4 linked regions of the Homo sapiens genome follow. The protein of the gene in region 1 interacts with the protein of each later gene in a pairwise test. Each region holds a gene or a part of one and is shown in the gene's direction. Other genes may lie near its edges. The genes, in order: PTPN3, VWA2, TFAP4 and DIP2A.

Region 1 (7,023 bases):
CAGTAAGTGCGCAAGACTGCCCATCAAAGAGCCAGGGCCCAGAGTTCACAGTGGCCCTAGTCACAACAGGCACGAGGTGCAAACAGCCCAGTGTCCATCGATGGAGGAATGGATAAACAGCACGTGGTCTGTCCATACAATGGAATATGATTCAGCCTTTAAAAGGAAGGAGATTCTGACCCCTGCTACAACACTGGGGAACCTTGAGCATATTATCCTAAGTGAAATAAGCCAGACATAGAAAGACACATACTGTAGGATTCAACTTCTGTGAAGTGCCTAGAGTCGTCCAATTCATAGAGACAGAAAGTAGAACGGTGGTTGCCAAGGGCTTGGGGAAGGAGGAGAAAGGACATCTATGGACATTTTGCCATATGGCATAATGGGTGCAGGGTTTATGTTTGCGGGATATTTTAAAGTTCTGGAAATAGGTAGTGCTGATGGCTCTACAACATTGCGAGTATTCTCAATGCCGCTGAACTGTACATTTAAATGTGGTTACAGTGGTAAGCCTCATGTTAGTATATTTTGCCACAGTTGAAAAAAAAAAAAAAAAACAGTCAGCATGTGTGGCCTCTAATGGCAAGTACCATAGCAGCAAATGGAGGAGATCACTGGGCAGAGGAGATCACTGGGCAGAAGTGATCAAGGAAGGCAGCCCTGCAGGACAGGCCCACAGCTGAGCCTGAGAGGGGATGGGGATCTTTGGGGAAGGAGGGGAGGAATTGCTAGGGGCCACAGCAGGGCTGTGCGCAGAGGGAGAAAGCATCAGGAGACAGGGCCACCCTGTGTCTGGGTTGGGGCTGGGTCCTCATGCTCACCACCTGGATGGGCTCACCAAGGCCACTGCATCTCCCACAGACCGGGGAAGAACACACAGTGACACATCTCCAGTACGTCGCATGGCCTGACCACGGTGTGCCCGATGACTCCTCCGACTTTCTGGAATTTGTAAACTATGTGAGGTCTCTGAGAGTGGACAGCGAGCCCGTCCTAGTTCACTGCAGGTATGGCGCTTGCTGTTTTGTTAGGTTTGGAATCCTTTCCCTGTCGGAAAAGGCCTGGAGACAATTGGCAGGCGCCAGACCCACCCTACATCCCACAAAGTCGTGTGCCCTTACAAACCTCTGTTGACTGTGGTTCTTCACCATTTCAAAAGTTTTTTGGAATTTTATGAAATCCTAACTTTGTGAATGTAGCACAGAACTGAAGAAGAAAATCCCCTCACACACCCTTTCTCCTGTCCTTCTGTCAGCTGACCTTCGTCATAGGTGTGAGTGAGAAAGGGAATAGGTTTGGCACTTCACAGTGGCCCTCTTTCCACTGCCTGCTAGCCCCCAGTCTCAGATGTGTGAGGACAGGCTGTCTCAGCCTGTTTGAGAGCACGCCGTGAGTGTGCGTTTTGTCTTCTCGAAGGCCAAGGGAGGAAAGCCCCTTTGGAGTCAGCGGGGAACTGCTCGCTGGGCCATGCAGAAAGGCTACTCAGACAAATCCCAAGTCTGTCTTCTCTCCCCTCTCCAGTGCTGGAATAGGTCGAACCGGTGTGTTGGTCACTATGGAAACAGCCATGTGCCTAACTGAGAGGAACCTGCCCATTTACCCACTGGATATTGTCCGAAAAATGCGAGACCAGCGCGCCATGATGGTGCAGACATCAGTGAGTAGAAATCCAGTAATTACGGTGGCTGGCACTTTCTGAGCACTTACACCAGGCAGGCCTGAGAGAAGGGCTTTGTGAGTCAACAGACTGCAGCTCAGGGGGACTGAATCACTTGCCCAAGGTCACAGAGCTTGTCAGTGGCTACAGCCCACACCCATCTCACCTCTGAGCTCTGCTGCCTCTGTGGTTTATTTCCTGCCAGCCCGTCTGTCAGGGAGCAGCCCTGGTTGCATTCTGTATCGTTGAACAATCATTTGTCCATTATCCTCCCCCGCACCGACCCACCTAGACCTGGGTACTCCTTTTGGCTCAGTGGATGTTGCATATGACCCTACTTTGAGCTCTGTTCCACCCGTGTGGTGCCTGAGTACCTGCTGTGTCCTCCACGGGCAGGCCAGAGCTCAAAGTAGGGTCATGTGCAACATCCTCTTGTCCTCAAGAGGAACTCTAGGGGATAACTCTTGGGGATTTCCCCTGGAACTGCAAGCGGGGCAGTGAAGCGGTGTGGAAAGAGCATGATTAAGGTCCCACCACAAATGGAACAACCTTTGCATAAGTCCTGAACCTCTCTCCAAGCTTCAGCTTCCCTGTGCAAAATGGGGACCATCCCACATTCATTCATTCATTCATTTGACAAAGAAGGGTGCAGAGACAGGCTTGTATCTAGTAGGAGAACTGGATTAGTCTATGCTAAGTGTCAGCAGCGGTGAGGGAAGTTCAGGGCTGTCTGAGAACATGGTGGAAGAGTATCTAAAGCAGGATTTGGAAAGTCTAGGAAGGCTTCCTGGAGAAGTGTCTTCTCTGGTAAAAACCCCCAGGGTACATGAGGAGTTAGCAAAGAAAGGAGCAGGAACTATATGTTCCAACCAGCTCTGTCTCTTCACAGGCTGTGGACAAAGTTTATAAGATTTCCCTAATAAATTTTTAAGCTTTGGTAGTTTTATATTAGTTTGTACCCAGAAAATCTTGTTAAGAGAAAAAAAATCAGCTTATGTTATTAGGGCCATTCTCTGCCCTGTTTTTTGGTATGGAAGACCTCGTGGCTGGTTAAAAAGAAAAAAGTCCATCATCCTGGTAGATTTTCCCAGCTGGAAGCTGGGCACGGTGGCTCACGCCTATAATCCCAGCACTTCAGCAGGCTAAGGAAGGTGGATCACTTGAGATCAGTAGTTCAAGACCAGCCTGGCTAACATAGTGAAACCCCGTCTCTAATGAAAATACAAAAATTAGCCAGGCATGGTGGCATGTGCCTATAGTCCCAGCTACTTGGGAGGCTGAGGCAGGAGAATCGCTTGAACCCAGGAGGTGGAGGTTGCAGTGAGCCAAGATTACGCCACTGCACTCCAGCCTGAGTGACAGAACAGGACTCTGTCTTGAAAACTAGATAGATAGATAGATAGATAGATAGATAGATAGATAGATAGATAGATAGATTTTCCTAGCTGGAGAAGCTCAGTCTAAATGCTTTTATCCCCCCTGTATACTTTGCTACAATATGTTTCTTAGGTATTTGCTAAGATAAATAACTGTATCCTGCAGAGCATCTTTCAGTGGCTCTGCTTTGTAAAACACAATCCAGACTCCTTACCCCAACACAAGGTGCCCACAACCAGGTCCCAGCCCACCTGTGCAGCCCCTCCTCCTCCACATGCCTAGGTGTTGAGTCCAGGAGCAGGCTCCCTGACCCCGTTTCTCAAAATGGGCTCTTACTGAGGCTTCCACACTTCCACTTACAAGAAGGGCTGTCCCGCAGGGACTTTTGCTCCTTCCCACCTCCCCCAGACCGCCAGTTTCTCCCTCTGTCATGTCTCCATGACACTTTGCCCACCCCTCTCTGGGAGTGCCCCCTCCCCGCATCATATAGGAACTAGGGCTTCACAGGTGTACCTGGCCTGTGGCCCAGAGTTGGCGCTCAGGGAATATTTACAAATGCTGCAAAAGACCCACCGGTACAGGGTGTGGTAGGCAGCATTTCCTGGAGCTACAGGACTTGACAGCATTTTTTTCTTTTCCAGAGCCAGTACAAGTTTGTGTGTGAAGCGATTCTTCGTGTGTATGAAGAAGGTTTAGTCCAAATGCTGGATCCTAGTTAAGACAACTGTGAAAAAGTTCATTCCTCTTTCCCAAGGGCATCCTCCTTGAAAGAGGAGGACAGACCTCTCTGGAAGCAGCAAGAGGAACCAGTAGCTGTGGGAAAGGAATGGGCACCTCTGAACCCAGGCACTTTAAACTTCTATAGAAAAGATATCGTGTACATAGGAACTGGTGTAGATAAGCATGCAATTATGGCATCATTTAGGCCTGTATTTCTATGGAAAGATACAAAAAGGATCTCAGTTTGGGGCCTGTCCTAATGCCTTCTTCCCTAACATCACCACACACACCCCTGTCGGCATCCTGGAGCAATTGAGACCGGACACCCACAGAGCTGTTGTCCTCCCAGCAACAAGATGGTGTGGTTATCTTGGGTCATTTGGATGTTTTGTTTGTTTCTGTGTGTCAGACTGTAAGGGCTGAGCTTTCTGTGCTTCTAGGTGGAGCTGGAACAATTCAGATTCACCCGCCCTGATGCTAAGGAAACCCTGACGTATGTACTAGATGGCAGGGCACTGGGGGTCAGGCTGAAGGCTGAGCAACACCTCTCTGCCCTCCCTCCCTTTGTCCCATCTCCCAGCGACTTCCAATATTCATGTTTCTGAGAATTGTGTCCCTCTTCAGGTTCCCTCTTGGTGCCTAACCTGGATTAGTAATGTGCATTCAGGTGAATTTTCAGCTGAGGCTCTGAGAACTGGTACTCTCAGTGTGTTCTGGTCATCTTGTGGCTTAGTTGTAGAAGCAGGTGTGTCTCTTGCCTCTGCTTGCCTCCTACTGCACACTCAGCACCCAGGACTGGAATCACCGACTACTGAATCTCCTACATGTATTGCTGCTACTTCAAGCTCCTCCACTTGAAACCTTATGATTTTCCCAAGGGGAGATGGGACAGTGTCATCTAAATATTCCGAATGTTTGGCCTTCTGAGAAAAGAGCTTCTAGTAATTGAACCATGGGAAACCCAGCTTCTGGAGGGTTGGCCGTGGGGCTGTGTACATGTGTGTGCCCAGGGGTGAGTGTTTCTCAGGATTCCTAACGATTCAAATTACCGTTGAGTATATATAAAGAATGAGTCTCTGTATGGAAGAACAAATGTGTGCATTCACCCCCAGTCACAATGGTCTCCATTGCATTTCAAAGGAGAGGATCAGACTATCTGAATATAAACACAATCTGATGTTAATTTATTCTAAGAACACCATCATTTTGATTGTCCTAAAGAATTCTGCCTTTGTGAATACCGTGTTAAATTTTTTTAAATTTGTGACAGGATTGTAGCAAATTATTATTTAAGGAAAATAAATTGTGTAAACATTTAATGTGGTATTTTTGAACAGCGGTTTTTATGTACTCAGAAGAGGAAGTAAAGCCAGGTTCTTAATGGTATTTATAGAAAAGATGTTTTCATATTATAATGCACATAAATGAAGCCATTTTGATATTCAGCAAATTCGGTGCCAATTGAATAGTTTGCTGGTAGCAAGACGGATGAAGACCTATATGGGAGATTCTTTATCTCTAGAGCTAGCATATTTACTTGCATACTTTGTTTCTTTTCCACATGGATATTTTACTGCTAAATGGCAGAGGTGGGAGGGAGATGTCACACAGTACCATAACCCCATATTGAAAACAAGAAACCACCAGAAAGTTTGCAGCTAAGGGGCAGGGGATTCAGTTCCTACGCCCACTCAGCACTAACTACTTGCGGGCCTGGTTGCTTAGAAGCTCTACCTCTCTTTCATTATCTGTAAAATAGAAACAATACTTAGGACTTTAGTTGGAACATGAGGATTGAATAAGATCACGCTATTCATGTGACTTTTTATCGGCTAGAACAGCAACAGACACTGCTGTGGGTGAGTTACTTAGAAAAGTTTAGTTATCAGTGATTAGCCCAAAAACACATCAGTCAAAAATAGAATCCACTGGATTTTTGTCTCTCTTTTTAGAGACAGGGTCTCACTGTCGCCCAGGCTGGAGTACAGTGGCATGATCATTGTTCACTGCAGCCTCAAATTCCTGGGCTCAAGCAATCCTCGCACCTCAGCCTCCTGAGTAGCCGGGACTATAGGCACATGCCACCTCACCTGGCTTGTGTGTGTGTGTGTGTGTGTGTGTGTGTGTGTGTGTGTGTGTGTGTGTGTGTGTGTGTGTGTAGAGACAGGATCTTGATGTGTTGCCTAGGCTGGTCTCAAACTCCTGGCCTCAAGTGATCTTCCCACCTCAGCCTCCAAAACTGTTGGGATTATAGGCGTGAGCCACTGTGCCCAGCCTAACTGGGTTTTTATGAGAGGAAAATAGAAAATGCTCTTCTAGAAGAGAGAGAACAAGAGCACAAAATAATCTGGACTCACAAAAATTCAGCAAGCTCCAAGAAAGGGGGATGGAGGGAACGCTGGCAAAAATTTAAATGCCATTAGGATATTTAGCAAGTTATTACTGTTTGGTAAAAATGCATCATCACCCTGTGTGCAAAATGCTTGCAAAGTAGTCTAAATGTCTTTGGAGATGGGTGTTTTACTGCTTTTTTCCAAAAACAAATTGTTTATTATGGTTGCAGAAATGCAGCCATTACGGTCACATAAATTTCTAAAAAGCCTACCAAAGGTTGCAAGCAGTCTTCTGCCACTGGGCAGGCCAGCAGTTCAGACCCAGCGAGGTTGCCAGGAACAAATCCAGGAAATACTGGGAAGAACAAGACAAGAGAATTACCTAAAAGAGCAAACAATTCAAGTAAATCCTGTAGCTATTACCACTTAAAATCCGTAGCTCAAGATTCCTGTTTCACCACCTTATACACTTAAGCAATTATACTTAAGCCTTTTTTTAGTCCTAAGTGAAGAACTACATCAGAATCAGGATAAGTATTTTGCCTGGGAAATTTGGCTGCATATGAATGGAGAAGACATTTACATCCTATGTTCTGGCACTTTCTGAAAGATCTAATTAAACATGTTGATGTGCCAATTTAATCAAGATGAGAGATCCCTGCTGGTGTCACCCTCTAGAACCTGCACTTGGTGTTTTGACTTTCCAGAAGAAAAAAATGCAACTTTGGTTAGGGGGCAGTGGTTGGATCACACAGTTGTCTTTCGTTTCCTACCACAGTAATTCATATTTAAATATGCTTTTAGATTAGTGTGGATACTATTGCTGCTGTGTTGCTACCTGACCTTTTTCTGGGGGGGGTACCTCAGAAATGAGCATTTGAGGGCAAGCGAAAAAGCCCTCTTCATCCTCCAGAGGCAACAAAGAGGCAGCAGAAA
Region 2 (7,023 bases), on another chromosome or scaffold:
TGGATTGCAGTGGCACAATCTCGGCTCACTGCATCCTCCACCTCCCAGGTTCAAGTGGCTCTCCTGTCTCAGCCTCCCAAGTAGCTGGAACTACAGGCACCCACCACCACACCCAGCTAATTTTTGTATTTTTAGTAGAGATGGGGTTTCATCATGTTAGCTAGGCTGGTCCCAAACTCCTGACCTCAAGTGATCCACCCACCTCGGCCTCCCAAAGTGCTGGGATTAGGCGTGAGCCACCACACCCCCCCTCCGACTGTGTGTCTTCTTAAAATGAGGTTTCTCAACATCGCCTAACCCTTTCTTCATGTCCTAGTGTCACCATCTGTACATCATTTTCCTCCTGGCACAAACAGCGCTGCCCTATGGCTATCGAGGTGTGCTGGCCGCTTCCTCTAGATGGCCTCCTATTGCTGGCCTTGGAGTTCTTACGTCCATTGTTTATCATTCCTCAGTCTTTTTTTCTGTTACCAGCTATGCTTGCTTGTTCTTTGCTTGCTGTCACCTCGAACCACTTTCTTTCATTTCCATTCCGGTTAACTGTTTTCCTCACCAGCTATGGGTCTGACAAAACCAGACACTAAATCTGTGCTGCCATCCACAAGGAACCCACGGCCTAGAAGATGAGGGGGCAGGAGGAGGGTGGGTATAGGACCACAAGCTGTTACAACCCCTTGGCACAGGTGGGAGGAGCTGCATGCACTGGCCAGCGAGCCTAGAGGGCAGCACGTGCTGTTGGCTGAGCAGGTGGAGGATGCCACCAACGGCCTCTTCAGCACCCTCAGCAGCTCGGCCATCTGCTCCAGCGCCACGCCAGGTAAGATCTTCCAGCCTGGAGGGAGTGGAAGTGCCATGTGGGGTCGGGGAGGGCTCCCTGAGGCAAGAGGTCAGGACCCAGGAGCCTCCCAAGGATGGAGGGCAGGCAAGAGAAACAGAGACCGGCAGCCTCCACCCTGGATGCTCTGCGTCTCCCTGTGCCCTGCCCTGTGGGTTTCCCAGCTGGGAGCCCCGAGCTTGTCTTCATGGAGGTAGAGGGGCCCAGGGTTTGAGACCCAAATGTAGTAGGTTCCCTGTCCCCTGCTCAAGAGACAGAGCCAAGTCTCCTCCCCCTGCCTTGGACCACACAGAGGAGCACAAGGAGGCTTTGTGCTTGGTGCGAGATCCCTGCATTCTAGTCGTCCTTGTCAGGGTCCACCCAGGAGCCACATTGATGACGTTATGTGGAATGTACATGTGTGCCCATTACGCAAAAGCTGTGTGGGGTGGGGCCCAGCAGAGGAGATGCTCAGAGACTGGATGCCCCGCTGAACAGGCAGAGCAGGGCCCTTCACCCAGAGATATGCCCTGACCTGAGAGAGCAGAAAGTGGCCAGCCTGGAAGTGTGGTGGAACCTCCCAGGAGCGGGAGCAGCTGCTGGGGAAGCGTGTGTGGCAGGAGGAGGTGGAACCCTGTCTCCTCCGTGGGTGTGGGTGTGTGTTGTGGACACAGACTGCAGGGTCGAGGCTCACCCCTGTGAGCACAGGACGCTGGAGATGGTCCGGGAGTTCGCTGGCAATGCCCCATGCTGGAGAGGATCGCGGCGGACCCTTGCGGTGCTGGCTGCACACTGTCCCTTCTACAGGTTTGTCTGCGCGGTCTGGGCTCGGCCTGGGTGGAGATGAAGGCCCCCACCCCTGAGCTGCGGGGAGGATAGTACTTTGGGGCCCTGCCATGGAGATTGTGACAGGGATCGAAGGAGACCTGGGAGGGAGCCAGGGACGTAGCCATGGGAGAACAGGGAGAGGCACAGCTACTCAGTGTCAGCATCCCTTAACACACAGCCCAGGTACCCAGGGTGAGCACTGGTGGCAGGGTCACAGGCATTCTGGAAGGCTGGTGAGTGAGCCAAGTGCTGGCCCTGCAGGGCGGTGGTCTGCACTTGGGATATTGATTTGGTAATTTGGTTCCTCTGAGCACCAGTTTCCACATTATGGGGGCTGAGTGAGGCAAGAGGATAGAGATCCTCAGATGAATTCCAGTCAGGGAGGCTATGGGATGCTGGGTTCTTTGGGATTGGAGCCCAGGCACCCAAGAGCACCTGCTGCCCGTCTGCCCACCCATCCCTCCCAAACACTCCCCACACTGTTCCTGGGCACTTTCTTTAGACTACCTGCCATTCAGCACCTCTGTCCGGAGACTGGTGACCCTGCCCCTCTCCCTTTCTGGGGGGCCGGGGCAGTGTTTGAATCAGCTGCATCTTTACCCATTGGTCCTCCCCCAGCGATGAGCTCACAGCACAGCACACAGCAGTGAAATGGATTGGCTGAGAAGCCTTAGGGCTGTGCTGGGCTGATGGAGAATCCAAAGACTGTTTCTCTGGGAAAGGCCAGCCCCCTACATAAGGGTCAGAGGAGATGAGGTCTCATGCCACTCTGGGGCCACCAGAGGCTCTCCTCAGAACCCAACCTCTCAAGTGAAAGGAGGAGTTGATTCGTTCCTTGGTGGCCACTTTCTAAGTGCCTGCTCAGAGCCAGGCAATGTGCAATAAGAAGACAGTACAGTTGCTGCCCCCAAGGAATCATGGTTTAGAGGAGGGCATTGGAAAAGGAGACCAGCGGCCACCCTGAGGCATCCTAGGTGTTGGGATGGAGTCTGTCCTCTCTGGGATGTCACAGAGAAGGGGCTGCTCGAGCAGTTTTGCAAGATTTGGAACTGTGGCAGTGGGCAAGGCGCTCAGAGCCGGGAGCGGCTGGAAGAGGCTGGTGGCTGCAGTGTATACTTCCTGGGCCTTGCATTCAGACTCTGCTCTCAGGCTGCTGAATTTTTAATCTTAGCAGAACCACTAGGGAGCGGTGAACTTACCACTGCATGTTTCTATGTTTGAAAAGGGGTGTGATAATAATCATACCTGCCCTACAGGTTTGTTGAGAACAGGCGGTGATTTAATAGGTAGATGTGTTAATATTGCAGGCTCCTAGAATGAAGCATTTGGGAGCTCTTCACCCATTTCTTCACTCAAGAAATACCCACTGAGGGCCTCCTGTGCTCCTGGCACTCACCCAGGTCCTGGGAAATCAGCACCAGCATCTCAGAAACACATCTACCCTCACAAGCTGACGCTCCAGTAATGGGAGGCAGTCATTCCAAAATGAATACAGAAAATAAACTGTTCAGTGGTAGCAGGTGCTGTGGAGGAACACAGCAGCAAGATGGGGATGCGGTGGGGTAGGCGGGGGGTTGGGGCAAGGTCACAGTTTGAAATGGAGTGGCCAGGGAGGGCCTTGCAGAGCATGTGGCATTTGTGTCCAGACCTGAGGGAGGTGGGGGGCAAACTGTGTGCAGGTCCCTGCAAAGCCCTGTTGGTAGTGTCTGCTCCATAAATGCTGATTCCCAGGGAAGCCTAAATCAGGGAGGGGGAAGGGCCCAGGGATCTTTCTGGGCTAGGACTTGTGGCTTTATGAGGTCACTAGGATAGACATGGAAGAGAAGACGATTTCTCTTGAATGAGCTGGCAGTTTGGCAAACTTTGTTTTTATTATTATTTTTTTGAGACAAGGTCTTGCTCTGTCACCAGGATGGAGTACAGTGGCAGAATCATGGCTTGGTGCAGCCTCAAACTTCCAGGCTCAAGTGATCCTCCCATTTCAGCCTCCTAAGTAGTTGGGACTACAGACACGCACCACCGTGGCCGGCTAATTTTTAAGATTTTTTTTTATAGATGGGGTCTCACTATGTTGCCCGGGCTGGTCTTAAACTCCTGAGCTCAATTCCTGCCTCCGCCTTTCATAGTGCTGGGATTACAGGCGTGAGCTACCACGCCCAGCCTTGGCAACCTTTATTTCAGCAACTCCATGAGCTCTGAATTGACTTGGCGTGTACTCCATTTTACCCCAGGGAAGACCCTGCCCTAGAGGAGCACCTGATTGGCCTGCCCCTGTGTGGGCAGCCCAGGGTGGGATCTTGTTGGAAGAAGCCTTATTTGGAGAACTTTAGGGAATGTTTCTGCCAAGGCCCAAGAGTCTCCTCAGGTGAGGCCATCCCAGGAGCTGCTGCCAACCCAGAGTGGGGCTTTCTGCCCCCAGATGAGGAACCGCTCCTGTGACAGCAGGGCACATGGCCCCGGAGACGCAGGAGAGGCGAGGGTGAGGCCCACAGGGTAGAGTGGGGGGATTTGGAGTCATGGTCAGGGTTTGGATCCCAGCTCTGCTGTGTTCCGGTAATTATGTGACCTCAGGGGCCCTAAGTGAGCCCTCAGAACCCATTTCCCTATCTGGAACATGGAGGGAACCATCTCTTCAGGTAGCTGTGGTTCATGGAACACCAGCAGGTGGAAGCCACCCAAGGAATGGTGGCTGCTGTGTTATCACAGAACGTTAGTTCTCCAGCAGACCTGAGAAGTCATTGAGTCCAGTGGCTTACATGTCTTGACCTGCAGAGCCTCGTGTGGACACTTGTTGTGTGGACCAGATAGTAGCAGCACACCTGGGGTGGAGGGGCGGGGCTGGGGCACTGCGGGAGGCCTGGAGCCTTGCTCCTTCAGTGCTCTTCTCTCCCCATCGAAGCTTTAAGGAATACAGTTGAAAAGTGAAGATAGAATTACTATACAAAGAGGAAAGTGAAGACCAGAGGAGGAAAGTAACATGTCTGTGGTCACACAGCCAAAATCCAGTTGCCCAGTTCCCAATATTTCTCTCCCTACTGCATCGTAAGCCTCAGAAAGTAACTTATAATAAAAAGCTGTTGCTACAGTTTGGGGTTTTGCATGTGGATGTCCCTAATTTCAAATGTGATAGCCAGCTTATGTTACCTTTTTTTTTTGAGATGGAGTCTTACTCTGTTACCCAGGCTGGAGTGCAGTTGTGCAATCTCGGCTCACCGCAACCTCTGCCTCCTGGGTTCAAGCATTTCTGCCTCAGCCTGCTAAGCTGGGATTACAGGCACATGCCACCACGCCCAGCTAATTTTTGTATTTTTAGTAGAGACGGGGCTTCACCATGTAGGCCAGGCTAGTCTCAAACTCCTGACCTCAAGTGATTTGCCTACCTTGGCCTCCCAAAGTGTTGGGATTGCAGGCGTGAGCCACCACTCCCAGCCTATTTTTTTTAATTGTCACTGGATAGTTTGAAACATTCCCTACTCTATGTGCAGAGAAAAGTTAGGGTAGAATCAAGAAACAAAACCAGGAAGTCTTTCTTACTTCTGCATTGGAATCTTCTATCAGCTTTTGGTGTTGTAAATCATCTTCTGTTTTCTGCCCTCCCCTTACACCTCTGATCTGTCTATAATTCTGTTTCCTTGGATTGTAGCTGGAAGAGAGTGTTCCTAACCCACCCTGCCACCTGCTACAGGACCACCTGCCCAGGTATGGTCTGTCTCTTGGATTTACAGGTTCTTTCAGGGCCCTGGGCCCAGGCTGCTTTGTAAAGTGGCTTTTACAATCCTGGGACAGAGGGTGGGGTTGTGACTGGCTCCAGGGCAGAGGGATGGGGCACTTGGGGGGCAGAGGAGAGTGTGCTCTTGACTCCCTCAATGGTGTTTGCTCATTAAGAATGGAGTGGCGGCTTTGGGATTACTCCCCTGAACCAGTGTTGTGTGCATTGGTGAGAGGCAGAGAGGCAGGCACCGAGCACCAGCTTTGCAGACATCCTCAAAGCCAGCACCAAACTCAGGGCAAGATATCTGAGTGATTTCCTCCTCTATAAAACATAGTGGTTTGTCCGATGTCTGGAAGCCCATTTCCCTCCTCCATGTGAAAGGGGGTCATCGTATATGAGGTCCTAGTGAAGATTCAGTAGATAATGCCCATGGAAGTAATCCCTCAGCTGTAAAATCCCAAATTAACGTGAGGAATCATCGATGCCATTATGCATCATTCAGCATGGTTCACCAGTGTGCCCTCACTATCCCTCACTTGGGGTGCTAGTGACCCCACTGACCTGGGAGCTTGAAATTGCCCTTCAATGTGTAGGTGTCAGTCCTGGGGTGGATTTGTTACTCCCGATGAGTAGCCTGTCTCCCGGAAGCAATGCCGGCAGTTAGACACACAGGCAGGGCAGCGAGCAGTTAGACACACAGGCAGGCAGGGCAGCGAGCAGTTAGACACACAGGCAGGGTAGCGAGCAGTTAGACACACAGGCAGGGTAGCGAGCAGTTAGACACACAGGCAGGGTAGCGAGCAGTTAGACACACAGGCAGGGTAGCGAGTGTCCCTATTTGGGGTTAGGTGATCCCTTCAGTATGTTCACAAGGTTTACAGTTCCAGCACCACGGCCTCTGAAGCACAGGAGAATCTGAGAGTGGAGCTGTTTCTGCTCAGAAATTAGGGTTTGAGGACTTCCGGTTTGGAAACTAGAGTGAAATGGCTTTCAGTCCCAGCTTTGCCTCTTACCAATGATCTGACCTGGGGCATGTGACTTCTATTCATTGAGCTTCAGCTTCCTCATCTGTCATATAGGGTTTTTATAGTTCCTACCTAAGGTTGTGACAATGAAATGGGACCATGCGTGTATTGTGCTTAGCACAGTCCCTGGCACATAATAGATGCTCAGTTAAAGGCCACTGTCGTCGATCTCAGTGAGCCCCCAGCTATTTCCACAGTCTTCTGGCTGATACAACAGCAGCCCCAGCGAAGTGCCTAGACTTAGCCTCAATCTTTTCTGCCTTTGAAAAGTCTATATTTTAATTACAATGATGTGGCCATCAAGAAAGAGATTAATATTTGTAAGCAAAAAGGACAAGAAAATGCCAGTCCCAGTTGTGACCACACTCAGCTGCTTATCCAGCTCTTGGAATACATGATCACATGAAGACCTTGTTTGTTTTCTGTAACCCTGGGAAGGAGGTCATGTGGTTTTAGCTGCACTTTGTAATAATTGATAAGGAAAGCAATGAGATGCTCAGGCATGGACCACAGGGAATCATAGATCAGACGCTTCAGAATGGGCCACATTTTGACACAGGCTGTGGTTTCCCATGTAAACTTTCAGCTTTGAAGAGGCCTTGCTCATAATTTGCATCTCACATCCAAAAGTCAATACTGTCATT
Region 3 (7,023 bases), on another chromosome or scaffold:
TTTTAGTAGAGATGGGGTTTCACCATAGTGGTTGGCCAGGCTGGTCTCGAACCCCTGACCTCAGGTGATCTGCCCACCTTGGCCTCCCAAAGTACTAGGATTACAGGCATGAGCAACTGCGCCCAGCCACTGAGTCTTAAAAGCAGGTATATGGGCAGGTATATGGTAGTCTCCATCCATATCTTGTGTTTTGTTTGTTTGTTTGTTTGTTTGTTTTGAGATGGACTCTCACTCTGTCGCACAGGCTGGAGTGCAGTGGCGCAATCTCGGCTCACTGCAACTTCTGCCTCCGGGGTTCAAGCAATTTTCCTGCCTCAGCCTCCTAAGTAACTGGGACTACAGGCCCGCTCCACCATGGCCGGCTAATTTTTGTATTTTTAGTACAGACGGGGTTTCACCATTTTGGCCAGGATGGTCTCGATCTCCTGATCTTATGATCTGCCCGCCTCGTCCTCCCAAAGTGCTGTGATTTCAGACGTGAGCCACCGTGCCCGGACTCTCCATCTGTATCTTTTTTTTTTTTTTTTTTTTTTTGAGGCAGAGTCTCGCTCTGTCGCCCAGGCTGGAGTGCAGTGGTGCAATCTCGGCTCACTGCAAGCTCGGCCTCCCGGGTTCACGCCATTCTCCTGCCTCAGCCTCCCGAGTAGCTGGGACTACAGGCGCCCACCACCACGCCCGGCTAATTTTTTGTATTTTAATTAGAGACAGGCTTTCACTGTGTTAGCCAGGATGGTCTCGATCTCCTGACCTCGTGATCTGCCCACCTCGGCCTCCCAAAGTGTTGGGATTACAGGCGTGAGCCACCGCGCCTGGCCTCTGTCTGTATCATAAAGCTCCTAGGCCTGGCTCGGTGGCTCAAGCCTGTAATCCCAGTGCTTTGGAAGGCCAAGGGGAAAAAATCATTTGAGCCCAGGAGTTCGAGACCAGCCTGGGCAACATAGCAAGACCCCACCTCTACAAAAAATAAAAAAATTAGCCCGGCATGGTGGCATGTGCCTGTAGTCTCAGCTCCTTGGGAGGCTGAGGCAGGAGGATGGCTTGAGCCTGGGAATTGGAGATTGCAGTGAGCTATGATCATAGCACTGCACTCTAGCCTGGGTAACAGAGACCCTGTCTCTTAAAAAAAACAGTAAGACTGGGTGCAGTGGCTCACTCTTGTAACCCTAGCACTTTGGGAGACCAAGGCGGGAGGATCACTTGAGCCCAGGAGTTCGAGACCAGCCTCAGCAACATGACGAAACCCTGTTTCTACTAAAAATACAAAAAACTAGCCGGGTGTGAATGGTGTGCACTTATACTCCCAGTTGCTTGGGAGGCTGAGGAAGGAGGACGACCTGGGCCCAAGAAGTTGAGGCTACAGTAAGCCGAGATCATGCCATTGCACTCCAGCTTGGGTGACGGGAGTGAGACCCTGCCTCTAAATAAATAAATAAAAATAAATTAAAAAAATAATAAAACTTAAAAAGCTCCCATAAGAAGGAGTTCAAGAAAATTGAAGGCTTTGGAGTGTTTATTGGGTCCCTGATTTATTTATGAAGCAACAACATTCTGCCGGGACTGAGGATACAGCCATGAACAGGATGTGACTCCTGTCCTCAGCAGCTCACAGCCTTGTGGTCTTAAAAGGTCTTGTAGACCCCCTAAGAGTTTCATGGGTTGTCCTGGACACCTGGGTGCAAACTAACTCTTGGGCCTCGACCTCCCGAGTAGCTGGGATTACAGGCACGTCCCACGACACCCGGCTAATTTTTGTATTTTTAGTAGAGAGGGGGTTTCACCATCTTGGCCTGGCTGGTCTGAAACTTCTGACCTCAGGTGATCTGCCCACCTTAGCCTCCCAAAGTGCTGGGATTACAGGCATGAGCCACCGTGCCTGGCCTTTCTTGATCTCTTTTAAACTTCACCATGACCCTGTGAAGTGAAGCAGTGTTTCCATATTTTACAGACGGAGGAAACCGAGGCTTGGTGTTGCACAGCTAGTAAGTGGCAAGGCTGGACTTTTTCACTTGAGCCCAGTGCAGGGTTCCCACTGATGGGCTGGAGGAGCTTTGGGGAAGGGAGGGAGGCAGGGATGTTTCTGATGGCAACAGCCTGGGCATGGTGTGTTCTGGGACCGAGGGGAAGGGCAGCAGACTGGCCAGGTCAGAGTACAGAGTATGGGTGAGTAGTGTAGAAGCAGCGGGGATGGAGCATGGATGAGAACCTCGGGCTGATTAGGTTAGAGAAGGATGAGTGCCTTAGTGCTTTTTTGGGTTTGGGAGAATCCCGTGTGGACTTTCCCACGTTGACTGTGTAGATGTTAAGTGACCCTGAGGTATGTGAGTGACTTCAGGGCAGTGTGAAATGAAAGTTCTCAGTGGCCGGTTTGAGGCTGGAGCTGGGCAGGCAGGTGTAGAGGGATTGGGGGTACTTGACTTTGGCCTGGGCAGGAGGGATAGGTACCTGGCAGGGTTCTAGACTTGAAGGGCATGCCCCATGCCTCCAAGTGTCTGGTTGGGACGCCAGCGTCAGTCTCAGCAGATTCTGTGGGTGCTGTGGTGGTAGGTGTGGCGGCTCTTGCCTTAGCATCCAAGGCTGGTGCCCAAATTTTGTTCCTTGGCCATTGGCTGCTCAGTGACCTTATTCCTAAATCTAGGGCAGCCCCTGTTTGGACCCAGGAGGCTGGCTTGCAAGAAGCAAGAGAGCCTTGGTGTGGCTGGGCATGGTGGCTCATGCCTATAATCCCAGCACTTTGGGAGGCCGAGGCGGATGGATCATTTGAGGTCAACAGTTCGAGACCAGCCTGACCAACATGGTGAAACCCCATCTCTACTAAAAATACAAAAATTAGCCGGGCGTGGTGGTGGGTCCCTGTAATCCCAGCTACTCGGGAGGCTGAGGCATGAGAATTGCTTGAACTCGGGAGGTAGAAATTGCAGTGAGCTGAGATTGTGCTACTGCACTCTAGCCTGGGCAACAGAGCGAGACTCCATCTCAACCCCCCCTCCGCCCCCCATAATTAGCCAGGCTTGGTGGATCACGCCTGTAATCCCAGTTATTTGGGAGGCTGAGGCATGAAAATCGCTTGAACCCGGGAGGTAGAGATTGCAGTGAGCCAAGATTGTGCCACTGCACTCCAGCCTGGGCAATAGAGCGAGACTCAGTCAAAAGAAAAAAGAGAACCTCGGTGTTGGTGGACTTGGGTCACCTTTGATTTTCACCTGGAGGAGTCTGAAGTGGCCAGAGAGAGGATAGTGGACCTTTACTGTGTGTGTAGGACGTTTACAGACCTTAACCGTAAATGCAAAACCCCAGAAAGAGCTATCAGAAACTTTCAGGCATTTGCAGAAAAATCCACTTTATTCAGTGCAGTATCACCTGGAAATTTCAATCAACCATCCTTCATCAACAGGAACCCCTGGTTGGTCAGCCATCAGAAGCCCTGGTTGGTCAGCATTCCACCAATAAGAATTCCTGGTTAGCGGCACTCCACCAATCACAACCCCTGGTTAGCTCCTATTCCACCAATCAGAAGCCTTGGTTAGAATGCATTCTATTAAAGGACTCTGTCGGCGGGTACTTCCAGGGCAATTTAGGTGAGTTATATTTGAGGGTCTTGGTGGCAGATTCAGGTCCCACGAGGAACTGTACCTTTTGGGGGGAAATTTGCTTTCTTGGATTTAAGAAAGTGCTTAACCTAAGTTAAGCACTAGGTTAGCCAGCAGCTGGTTTCTGAGCCAGGAGACTGGGCTGATGGCTTTGGAGAGGAAGGAGGCAGGATGGAGCATTGGAGAAGCTGGGCCGGCAGATTCTGATGCAGAGGAGGAGGCGACACAGGCCCCTGATCCCAGCCCCAGCTCCTCTTCCTTGTGAGAACTTCCGGCTGGGGTTTTCGGGACTGGGGTCTGGTGGTCTCCTTTGGTCTCCCAGTTAGTGGGCTGCCTTGCGGGGAAGGGACGGAAGAGGCTGAGGGTCAGCTCCCAAGAGCAGAGGAGTTGGTGGGACTTGGGCCGGGAGGTGCAGAAGGGTGCATCTGGCTGCACCCTGCCCTGCCCAGCTGCTGGGTGTGACCTTGGGCAAGTCACCTCACTTGTGGGCTTGTGTTCAGAGGGGCAGGGGTGATGGCTGAGCTTGCAGTCACACACCCGCTTCTGATAAGTGGCGGGCTGTGTGAACTAGCAGTCAGTAGAGGCGCTTCAGTGGGTTGGCATCTGCAGGTTGCTGTTGTGCCAGGTCTGGCTACTTGACCTTGGGATCATCACCTTCCTTCCCACGACCCTGCATTGCTTGCTCACTGTAATCTCGGCCACCCCACTGGGTTTTGTGAGAATCAGGCAGGGAAAAATGTCAACGAGGTCTGTGAATAATAAAAAGAGTTACACGATTACAGCGATTTCCGAATGCCTGGTCCTTTTTTTTTTTTTTTTTTTTTTTTTTTGAGACAAGGTCTCACTCTGTTGCCCAGGCTGGAGTACAGTGACATGATCACAGCTCACTGCAGCCTCAACCTCCTGGGCTTATTACATCCTCCCACCTTAGCCTCCTCAGTTGCTGGAACAATAGGGACACTCCACCATGCCTGGCTGATTAATTTTTTCTAGTGATGGGGTCTCACTATGTTGCCCAGGCTGGTCTTGAACTCTGGGGCTCAAGCGATCCTCCTACTTTGGCCTCCCAAAGTGCTAGGATTATAGGTGTGAGCCACTGTGCCCGGCCTAGTCTTCTCTTTTACAGGGATAACTGTCACCTGCCAGTTGGGGCATCTGGCTCTGTGGGCCGGTCAGAGCTCATTCTGCCCTATGGCCTGACACCTGCTCTGGGGTCAGGGTTCACGCCCAGCGCTTGCTGCAGCTGGACCCTACCCAAACCTCTGTGCCCCCCTCTTTACATGGGAGTCTTCAGGCCACCTGACTCAGGAACATTGTGACAATTCAGTGAGAAAATTCTCGCCAAAAACTTAAAAAAAAAAATGTATCCCTCTGTTGTGGACCCTCCAGGAGGGCCAGCTCTCAGGTGGCCCAAGGCTGGACTTGGTGCTCCCTTTTCACCCCCTAGTCAGCTCTGGCTTTTGGGCATTGCCAGGAGGGACCCAGGGGCTGGGTGGGCAGGGGTCTCTCCCCACATCTCTCCTGAGGGGGATGGTGATGCCTCAAGATTGCACTTACCTTGTGTTGTGGCTTCCTATGGACATCTCTTCCCACCTCTTACCTCCAAAGAGCCCCAGCTTTAAGCCACCCACTGCAGAGCAGTCCTGGTCCCCTTGGCCTGCTGGCCTCTCAGACATGGTATGGTCTGAGTTTGTGCCAGGCCTGGGAGCCTGGACTCCGCCCTAAGGCTGGGCCACACACAGCCGTGCAGCAGGCCTGCTCCAGTCCCCCTATCACCTCCACTTCAGGGCAGGGGAACCGGGAGAAGTGAGAGCACTGACATCCAGCTGACCGACCCTAAAACCATCCCCTCTCTGCCCTGCACCCTAAAGTCTCATGGAAAGTGGGGGGCCCGGGCCCCTTTTGCAGTGCGGACATTTCAAGACCCTGTAAGAGACTTGTACCCTGGGTGCAGGCCCTGGGCCTTTGGGTCCTGATGGAGGAGGGGGCTTGGCTTGATGAGGACGGAAGGAGGCTGATTTGCATCCAGACTTCCGGCGTTGGACACCTCTCTATTGGGAGAGGAAGCCGAGGCCGGGGAAGGGGCAGCGATGCGTCCAGGGTCCCACAGGGAGCCAAGGCTGGACAGATGGGCAGGCTGGGTGGGGCCAGGAAGGCCACGGCTGTTTCCAGCTGTTGCAGATGTGCTGCCTCCGGGGTCCGTGCAAACTCCTTTCCGCCTGCAGGCTGGCGAAGGGGCCAGGGCACACAGCAGGGGAGTTAGACTTGGCAGCCCCTTGACCCCAGACTGCCTTCATCAATGGAGCAGGAGCTGCCCAGAACCCTTTTCCTGTTCTCCCACATTCAGGGGCATGAGCCCCCTTGGCCCAGTCCTGGAACAGGGCACCCCGGGAGGGCCCCTCAGGAAGAGGCCGGGGCTGCGGCTTCGGGTGGGGCCGGCAGCCTCTGCTGAGAGCCCAGCATCTGGAAGCCATCAGGCCAGGGGCGGGGGGAGTTGCAGGGGAGGTCCAGGGAGGGGGACATGCCTCCTCCAGGCCACACACAAGCCCAACCCTCGGGAGCGTGGCCTTGGGCCCACAACCGCTGCCTCTGCACCCTGGCCCGCAGCCCCGCCCCCTGGCGCACACGCCCCGCCCTCGTCCGAAGCCACGCCCCCAGCCAGCAGCCACGCCCTCTTCCCCCAGGCTGCCTTCTCACCGCACTGGCCACTGCTCCTGCAAGGGTCAGCAGCGCTCCCCACAGCATGGTGGGAGCCTCGCTTCTCCGGCGCAGGGTGGGTCTATCTCTTGGAGTGGGTGGGCTGTGGGGAGCCGTGTCCCCAGGGGTTGTTGGCTTGGTGTCTTTTTGGGGAGTGAGTGGTACTTGTCTTCTGTGAAGTCTTAGCCTAGCGGGGCTGGGGCTTGTGGTGGGAGGCGTGGCCGTGAGGGTAGGAAGGGAGTGGGGACGTCTTCCTCAGTCCTGGGGTGGCAAAGCCTGAGACGCTGAAGAGGCGCTCCAGGTGCCTAGCAAATCACTCAGAAGTGTTCCAGGAGCGGGGACAGCGTCCCTGAATGTCGTCTGCATCCCGCGTGCATCAGAATCACACCACGCACGTTTCTGGGCCCCACCGGGCCTGCTAGTCAGACGCTGGGGCCAGCACCCGTCGTCTGCATAGTTTCTAAGCTCTTGGATGTTTTGATGCTCAGACACACTGGGAATTCTGTTCCGGAGGAGAGACTGCTCCCTGTGAGGAAAGCCAGGGAGGGGATGGGTTTTTGTTGTTGTTGTTGAGACAAGGTCTTGCTCTGTTGCCCAGACTGAAGTGCAGTGGCGTGATCATAGCTCACTGCAGCCTCCAACTCCTGGGCTCAAGCGATCCTCCCACTTCAGCCTCCTGAGTAGCTGGGACTACAGGCATGCACCACCACACCTGGCTAATTTTATTTTTTTGTAGAGA
Region 4 (7,373 bases), on another chromosome or scaffold:
GTGTCCACAAGTCTTCCAAATGTTTGGCTAATCACTTTTCTCCAGGATGTAGTTATCAAAAGAAATTGCTATCAGACCCTTTGGAAAAGTACCTGGGGATTCATTTCTGTTGTACTTGTACTGTTATAGGTCCTTCTTCCTGGTGTTTGGCCACCTCTCAAGTAATGTTTCCATTTCTGAAAACTGGCTCAGTTCCAGAAGCTGGGCATGGAATCCTGATTTTTTAAAACTGGGACAAGCATCTTTATTTATTTTTTTCAATTGAGACAGTCTTGCCACATTGCCCGGGCTGGAGTGCAGTGGTGCAACCACAGCTCACTGTAATCTTGAACTCCTGGGCTCAAGTGATCCTCCCACCTTAGCTTCCCCAAATGCTGAGATTACAGGCACAGGCCACCGTGCCTGGATGGATTTTTTTTTTTTTTTTTTTTTTTGCCAGCTGAGTAGTACCCTTCTTAGCTGCCCACCTGTTTTGCCTCCAGGGATGCCATGTTTATTGACCAGTTCTATAACCATACAAGTGAGGTCCCCTTGGCTGCCACTCAGACCCTGCTGGCTGCTATAATTGCAATCCTCTGACTTCTGCCAGCTAAGTGTTGCCTTTGGCTTCTTGGGTTTTTTTCTTTGGTCCCCACTATGTCCCAGAATGGCCTCTTTTGTCTTAGGATCCTATCATCCCCAGTGCTATCACCCAGCCAAGTTCTGGAACAGCCTTTCTATTGTCATTCTTGCCTACAGAGATGAGCCATCACTGAATATTTTAGTGACATCAGTGCCCCTTTCATCATCCTATGTCTAATGATCTTTATAAATGACGTGTTATTTACACCTTCATGTGGAATATGATCGTCTCAAATGTCTTCTAGATGCACGGAGTATATAAATTTCAACATGCCCACACCCCTGAACCTTTTACTCCCTTCCACCACTGTCTGCCATAGCAATTTTGCCATTTCAATTTTGCTTACCATGGCCCATGGCTTTTTCCAAGTGTGGTGTTTTAAAAATATACTGGCAAATTTTTTGATATTCTTCCCTTTAGAAGATGAAGCCTAATTCCTCTCCTTTTGAATATGGGTAATTTAGTGACTCATTTCTTCCAAATAGGAAGTAGCCGAAGTGATGGTATGCAACTTCTGAGGCTGGTTCACAAAAAGGATACAGCTTTCTTTTGTCCTTTGTCTTTAGATTGCCCTTGGAATCCAGCCATCATATTGTGAGAAAGCCTCGGCCACAGGGACCGGCCGTGTAGGGGTGTGCTGGCTGACATCCCCAATCTGGGCTGCAGCCAATCTCCAGTATCAGCTGTCAGACATTCGAGCAGATGAACCTTCACTCATTCCAACCTCTAGCCTCTGAACTGCTCCAGCTGAGGCCTCAGACACTGTGGAAGAGAGATAACCAATCCCCACTATGTCTGACCCACAGTAACCTAGAGAGATCACCGATCCCCACTATGTCTGACCCACAGTAACCTAGAGATAAGAAATGATTCTTGTTTTAAGCCACGAAGTGTGGAGTAATTTGTTAGGCAGCAGTAGCTATACCGCCATTCTAGGAGCCATCCTTGCAGGAAGTCTGCAGCCACTCTTTGCCAAGGTGTTAAATCACGTATTTCAATAAACACATCTATGCAAGTTTACATTCCAGCTCCCTTCATCAAGCACCCTCATAATCCAGCCCCAAACTTTCCCAGCTCCTGTCAGTACATGTTGGCTGGGTGGTACAGCTTGTTATGGGCTGAAGTGTGTCCCTCTCAAAAGATGCTGAAGCCCTAACCCCTGGTCAATGTGAATGTGACATTATTTGGAAATGGGTCTTTGTAGACAAGTTAAGATGCGCTCATTAGAGTGGGCCCTAATCAGTATGACTGGTGTCCTTCTAAAAAGAGGCCCATGTCGAATGACCTTTGTCAATGATGTTACTTATGCCTTCGTCTGGAGAGACACACACAACAAGATCACCATGTGAATATAAAGGCAGGACTGGGACAATGCCTCTATAAGCCAAGGAACCAAAGACTGCCAGCAAACCACCAGAAGCTGGGAGAGAGGCATGAGACAGATTCTCCCTCCCAGCCCCAGAAGGAACCAACCCTGTGAAAACTTTGATCTCAGACTTCTAGCCTCCAGAACTGGGAGACAATAAATGTCTGCCCAGTTTGTTACTGAAGCCCCAGCAAACTAATAACGCAGTTCTTCTGAGGGGGAGGGAGCTATATTCTCTTTTCTATCTCATTGTTTCCAGCTGAATAATGCAAAAGAAACAACCATAATTATACATCTACTGAGCAGTAAGTGGAGGGAGGAGGAGTAGTGTCAGGTTAATAGGAGAGGTGAGCCACCCCGGCAGGCTTCAGGTTCAAGGCAGGCCAGGTGTGATGGCTCACTGGAGCCTAGAAGTTTGAGACAAGCCCGGGCAACATAGCAAGACCTTGCCTCTACAAGTAATAAAAAATGTATCCAGGTGTGGTGACACATACCTGTAGTCCCAGTTACTTAGGAGGCTCAGGTGGGAGGATCGTTTGAGCCCAGGAAGTTGAGGCTACAGTGGGCCATGATCCAGCAACTGCACTCCAGCCTGGGCAACAGAGTGAGACACTGTCTACGAAAAAAAGGTTTAAGGCAGTTTGGGGAGTCAAAACCTTTGAAGGCATCTACCCAGGTATCTCCAACCCATGTATGACGGGCTTTTCTTTTCTTTCTTTTTTTTTTTTAAAAGACAGAGTCTCACTCCTGTTGCCCAGGCTGGAGTGCAGTCACAGCTCACTACAGCCCTGACTTCCAGGGCTCAGGTGATCCACCCACCTTAGCCTCCCAAGCAGCTGGGACCACAGCCGTGGCCACCATGCCCGGCTAATTTTTTGTGTTTTCAGTAGAGATGGGGTTTTGTCATGTTGCCCAAGCTGGTCTTGAACTCCTGAACTCAAGCAATCTTCCCGCCTTGGCCTCCCAAAGTGCTGGGATTACAGGTGTGAGCCACTGTGCCCAGCCTCATCTTTTCTTAGCAGGGATCCAAACTTAGTGGAAGAGTATTGCCTTGTTTGGGTGTTTTGCTATTTTTGGAGTTCAGTCAAACAGGGATGTTAATTCCTGGGCCTGGTTCTTGTCTTTGACCTGCTGCAGTAAATGAAGCTTCTCTATATGTAACGGGACAGATTCACTGGCTTACAACTGTTTGTTGCTTGCCTTCAGCTGACCACTATTCTTAAGAGTCTCGGTTGGCACTAAGCAATAGCTATCCAATCCCCCTTTCCTTCCTTTTATCTACTACGTTCACCATATATGAAATGTCTGATACTTCACCCACTCGTGGATTCCATTTCACTAGTTCACCCTCCTACTTCACCACTGGTGAGTGATGCAGCCTCGAATCCCATCTTCTCACCAGCTTTAATGCTGCAGAATGGTTTCTCCAGAAGCAGACGCTGCGACTGAGTTTGGGGTACGAGGATGTTGACATGGTATCAACACCCGTGAAAGGAAGGGGAAGGAAGCAGGACTGGGCGGAGGAAGAAGGGTATGTAAGTCCCGCAAAGCTTTGGCCAACCTCGTGTGGAGCTCTGGAACGAGAACTGCTGAAGTTCGCCAGACTCGGGCACTCCTGCCTAACTCAGTAACAGGCGGGCGGCATCGGGACACGGACACGCTGCTCAGGCCCCGCCACAGCCACCCTCGCACCGTCAGACACACTCCCACACATTCGGGGAGCAGGGCCTTCAGGACGCCGGCGGCGCCCTCTCAGTCTAGCTCCGCCAGGCCCCTCGTCCGTCCTCCCGCCCTCCAAGGTCACCTCGCGGTCCGACATGGCTGCTGGGGCTCCTTCGGGGCCAACGATGTGTACTTCTAGGGCTGTTTTTTAAAGCAAAGGAGTGAACACAGGTAAAGGCACGAGAAAGGTGCCTCGACGCCACCACGGACTGCGCAGCGTTCGCGATCAGCACAGCCCGAAAGGGAAGACAGCGGTCAACGCGGACGCGCCATGGCGCGGGGACCAAGGAGGAGCCCCGAGAGGGGCGGGGCTGGCCGGAGGGCCGCGCGCGGGGCCACCAGCGGCGCCTAGGGGTCAGCGCCAACGCCCACGGGTTGGTCATCCCCACTTAGGCGCCTCGGGCCGCAACTAAGCAGCCTGCCCGCCTCAAGCCCGCCACCCTCAAGCAGGCCCAGCGCAGAGCCTGTCGGGAGCGGCGCTCTCCCGCCTCTCCCAATGGGAGCCCGGAGCGGCATCGACGCGTCTTCGGGGCCAATGGAAGCGAGGCTCTGGTGTTGCTGGGCGGGGCCGGGAGGGCTGCGCGGGCCCGAGACCCACTGCGCACGCGCGCTCGCTACCCGCCCTTCCCGCCGCGCACGCGCTCCCGTGTAGGGCCGGCCGGGCGCTCAGGAGCGCGCGGGGCAGCGGCGGCGCGGCGGAGCCATCCGCGCTCGTGCCCGCGCGGGTGCGTTGCTGTCCTGGCCGCGCCCCTGTCCCGCCGCCTCCCGCTCCTCGCCTGGCGGATGTAGGTTGTTGGCCTGAGGGGAGCTACGTAGCCGAGGTTTGCGCTGCCGCCGCCAGGCCCGGTCCGGTTCCAGCCTCTGCCCGGACGCTAGCCGGCCTGGCCATGGCTGACCGCGGGTGCCCGCTGGAGGCGGCGCCGCTGCCTGCCGAGGTGCGGGAGAGCCTGGCTGAGCTGGAGCTGGAGCTGTCGGAAGGTGAGCCGGACCCCGCCCTCAACCCCCGCGACCCGCCCTCAGCCCGGTCCCCCGCGCAGCCCCTCACTCCGGGACCCCCGCGCGGCCCCTCACTCCAGGACCCCCGCCCTTCACCCCCGGGACCCCCACGCGGCCTCGCCCCTGGGACCTCTGCCCCTCAACGGGACCCCGGTTCCTCTACCCTGGAACCCGCCCCTCGCCCCGGAGACACCGTTCCTCAACCCTAGGACCCCGCCCCTCATGTGGGACCCCAGCACGACCCCTCGCCCCGAGACCCCGGCCCCTTACCCCCGGGAACTCCCGCCCCTCACCCCCGGGACCTCCTGCCCCTCACCCCCGGAACCCCGCGCGGCCCCTCACCCCGGGGACCCCGCCCTTCACCCTGGGAGCCCCGCGCTGCCCCTCCGGACTCCCGACCCTCAGCCCCGGGACACCCGCGCGGCCCCTCAAACCAGGGACCACTGCCCCGCCTCTCATACAAGGACCCCTCCCCCATACAAGGACTCCTCCCCCCAGGCCCTTCACACCTGGGACCCTTACTCCTCACCCCGGGACGCCTGCCAAACTTCTGGAGACCTTTCCCTATCCCCAGCTGCTCCCCCAATGGGATCCGACCCCAAGGACTGGCTTTGACTAGGTCGTTTGGACAGGTGTGAGAATCTTGAGAGGAATGACCACTTTTGCCCCAAGCTGTGAGCCCCGCTTTTCTCAAGGCTGTAGGTCTGGGCTTGGTCTGGGCTTCACCAGGATGACTGCGCCCGTTGTCCGCAGGCAGCTACTTCCCTTGGAGCTGGGAGCCCTTGCCGCGCGCCTCATACTCTAGGAGCTGCACCCTGTGCCTCATTTTATTATCTATAAAGTGGGGTTATACCAGCACTTTCCATTTTGGATTGTTATGAGGCTAAAATACCTTAATATATGCAAAGCACATAACACTTAGGAGTTGTTAGCCCCCTCATGGAATTTTTTAAAGTAAAAAAAAAAAGTCGTATAAATGGTTGGTTGATAAAAATAGACTGGAGTAATCTGGCTTCAGAGGTGGTGGGTGGCATTTCCCATTTGGATGTTATCCCTTTCAAGGCCTGTGTCCTGATATTCCTTTTGGCTGTCTTTGGGAAAGAGTTAAGTTCTTCTCCAGTGTCAGAAAGGACTTGCAGTCCTTGAAGAAAAGCATGTAATTGATTCTTACTCTGTTTTTGAGATCTAAATGCATTTTCAGCTTTTAGAATCCATTTTTTAAATAATCTTATTATCCTTAATTTAAGTTTCAGATTGATAAGATTTTGCTGGGTCTGGGGTAGTTATTTCTCAAAACATCTAAATAATATGCACTAGCATACAGTAAGTCATTTAATCCTTGCCAACCTTAGGGAGGTAGATGCTGTTGTGATCTTGTTTTACATATAATACAACATGTACTTGCAACTATTTTGAATTCAGCATTCAGATTTTTAACAATGTTGTGACATGTGGCACATTTTTTTTTTTTGAGACGGAGTCTTGCTCTGTTGCCCAGGCTGGAGTGCAATGGCGTGATCTCGGCTCACTGCAACCTCTGCCTCCCAGGTAGAAATGATTCTTCTGCCTCAGCCTCCCGAGTAGCTGGGATTACAGGGGCTTGCCACCACGCCCAGCTAATTTTCGTATTTTTAGTAGAGGCAAGGTATCACCATGTTGACCAGGCTGGTCTCAAACTCCTGACCTCAGGTGGTCCGCCTGCCTCGGCCTCCCAAAGTGCTGGGATTACAGGCATGAGCCACCGTGCCTGGCTTGTGGCACATTTTTAAAAATGGAAGTACAGGCTGAGTACACAGTGGCTCATGCTTGTAATCCCAACACTTTGGGAGGCCACGTTGGCTTGGAGACGGGAGTTCAGAACAGCTTGGGTAACATAGCAAGACTCTGTCTCTACAGTATTAAAAAAAATTAGCTGGGCATGGTGGTGTGCACCTGTAGTCCCAGCTACTTGGGAGGCTGAGGCAGGAGGATCACCTGAGCACTGGAGCACTCCAGCCTGGGCAACAGAGCGAGAACCTGTCTCTTCTCACCAAAAAAAAAAAAAAAAAAAAAAGGAAAGAAATGGATGGATTTGAGAATTCTTGGTGATTAGATGCTCCTAGGCAGTCTGACAAACTTAAATTAGGAATGGGTTTGACAGGATCTACTGTACTGCATTTGTTAAGGCTCTTTAGGGAAAATCACATATACGCAGTTTAGATTCTGTGCATTTCAAACATATTTTTGCGTATTGCTCCTAATTTCTGCTCCAATGTATTCATTATTCCCTCAATTTTTTGTGTTGTAGTTGTGTTTGAGTGCTTGCTAGGCATTGACAATTGAATCCTTTCCTCAAAGAACTTTATAATTTGTGCGACAGAACACAAGTACTTAAATGAAAGAAATGTTTCCTATCTGTTGGATCCATTTATGCTATTGTCATCTTAGAGATATGTAGGGGATGTATAGGTAAGTAAAGGTATAAGATTATGTAACATGGAGAGGAACCTCGAAAAATAGCTTAAGCTGAGAAAGGGGGTAAACAAAAAAAGTATTGAGCCCAGAAATGGTGGCTTAGGCCTGTTATGTTTGCATTTTGGGAGGCCCAGGCAGGAGGATCACTTGAGCCCAGGAGTTTGAGACCAGCCTAGGCAACATAGGGAGACCCTGCCTCTTCCAAAAAAAAAA

The links.
Region 2: the proteins of PTPN3 (region 1) and VWA2 interact in binary tests that used the Homo sapiens proteins (3 or more experiments, as listed by UniProt).
Region 3: the proteins of PTPN3 (region 1) and TFAP4 interact in binary tests that used the Homo sapiens proteins (3 or more experiments, as listed by UniProt).
Region 4: the proteins of PTPN3 (region 1) and DIP2A interact in binary tests that used the Homo sapiens proteins (3 or more experiments, as listed by UniProt).

Annotation. Positions count from the first base shown.
Region 1 is NC_000009.12:109,376,286-109,383,308, reverse strand, and holds part of PTPN3 (tyrosine-protein phosphatase non-receptor type 3), read left to right. Parts: intron 1-861; coding exon 862-1,007; intron 1,008-1,521; coding exon 1,522-1,657; intron 1,658-3,675; coding exon 3,676-3,753; 3' UTR 3,754-7,023.
Region 2 is NC_000010.11:114,277,231-114,284,253, forward strand, and holds part of VWA2 (von Willebrand factor A domain-containing protein 2 precursor), read left to right. Parts: intron 1-683; coding exon 684-817; intron 818-1,488; coding exon 1,489-1,621; intron 1,622-3,494; exon of another isoform or gene 3,495-4,394; coding exon of another isoform or gene 4,395-4,541; intron 4,542-5,282; exon of another isoform or gene 5,283-5,285; coding exon 5,286-5,341; intron 5,342-7,023. Other genes in the region: AFAP1L2 (actin filament-associated protein 1-like 2), read right to left, coding at 4,395-4,541.
Region 3 is NC_000016.10:4,263,004-4,270,026, reverse strand, and holds part of TFAP4 (transcription factor AP-4), read left to right. Parts: intron 1-1,822; exon of another isoform or gene 1,823-1,979; intron 1,980-3,096; exon of another isoform or gene 3,097-3,525; coding exon of another isoform or gene 3,526-3,575; exon of another isoform or gene 3,576-4,336; intron 4,337-5,144; exon of another isoform or gene 5,145-5,677; coding exon of another isoform or gene 5,678-6,360; intron 6,361-7,023.
Region 4 is NC_000021.9:46,454,535-46,461,907, forward strand, and holds the start of DIP2A (disco-interacting protein 2 homolog A), read left to right. Parts: upstream 1-4,356; 5' UTR 4,357-4,597; coding exon 4,598-4,688; intron 4,689-7,373. UniProt on the Homo sapiens protein: Catalyzes the de novo synthesis of acetyl-CoA in vitro. Promotes acetylation of CTTN, possibly by providing the acetyl donor, ensuring correct dendritic spine morphology and synaptic transmission.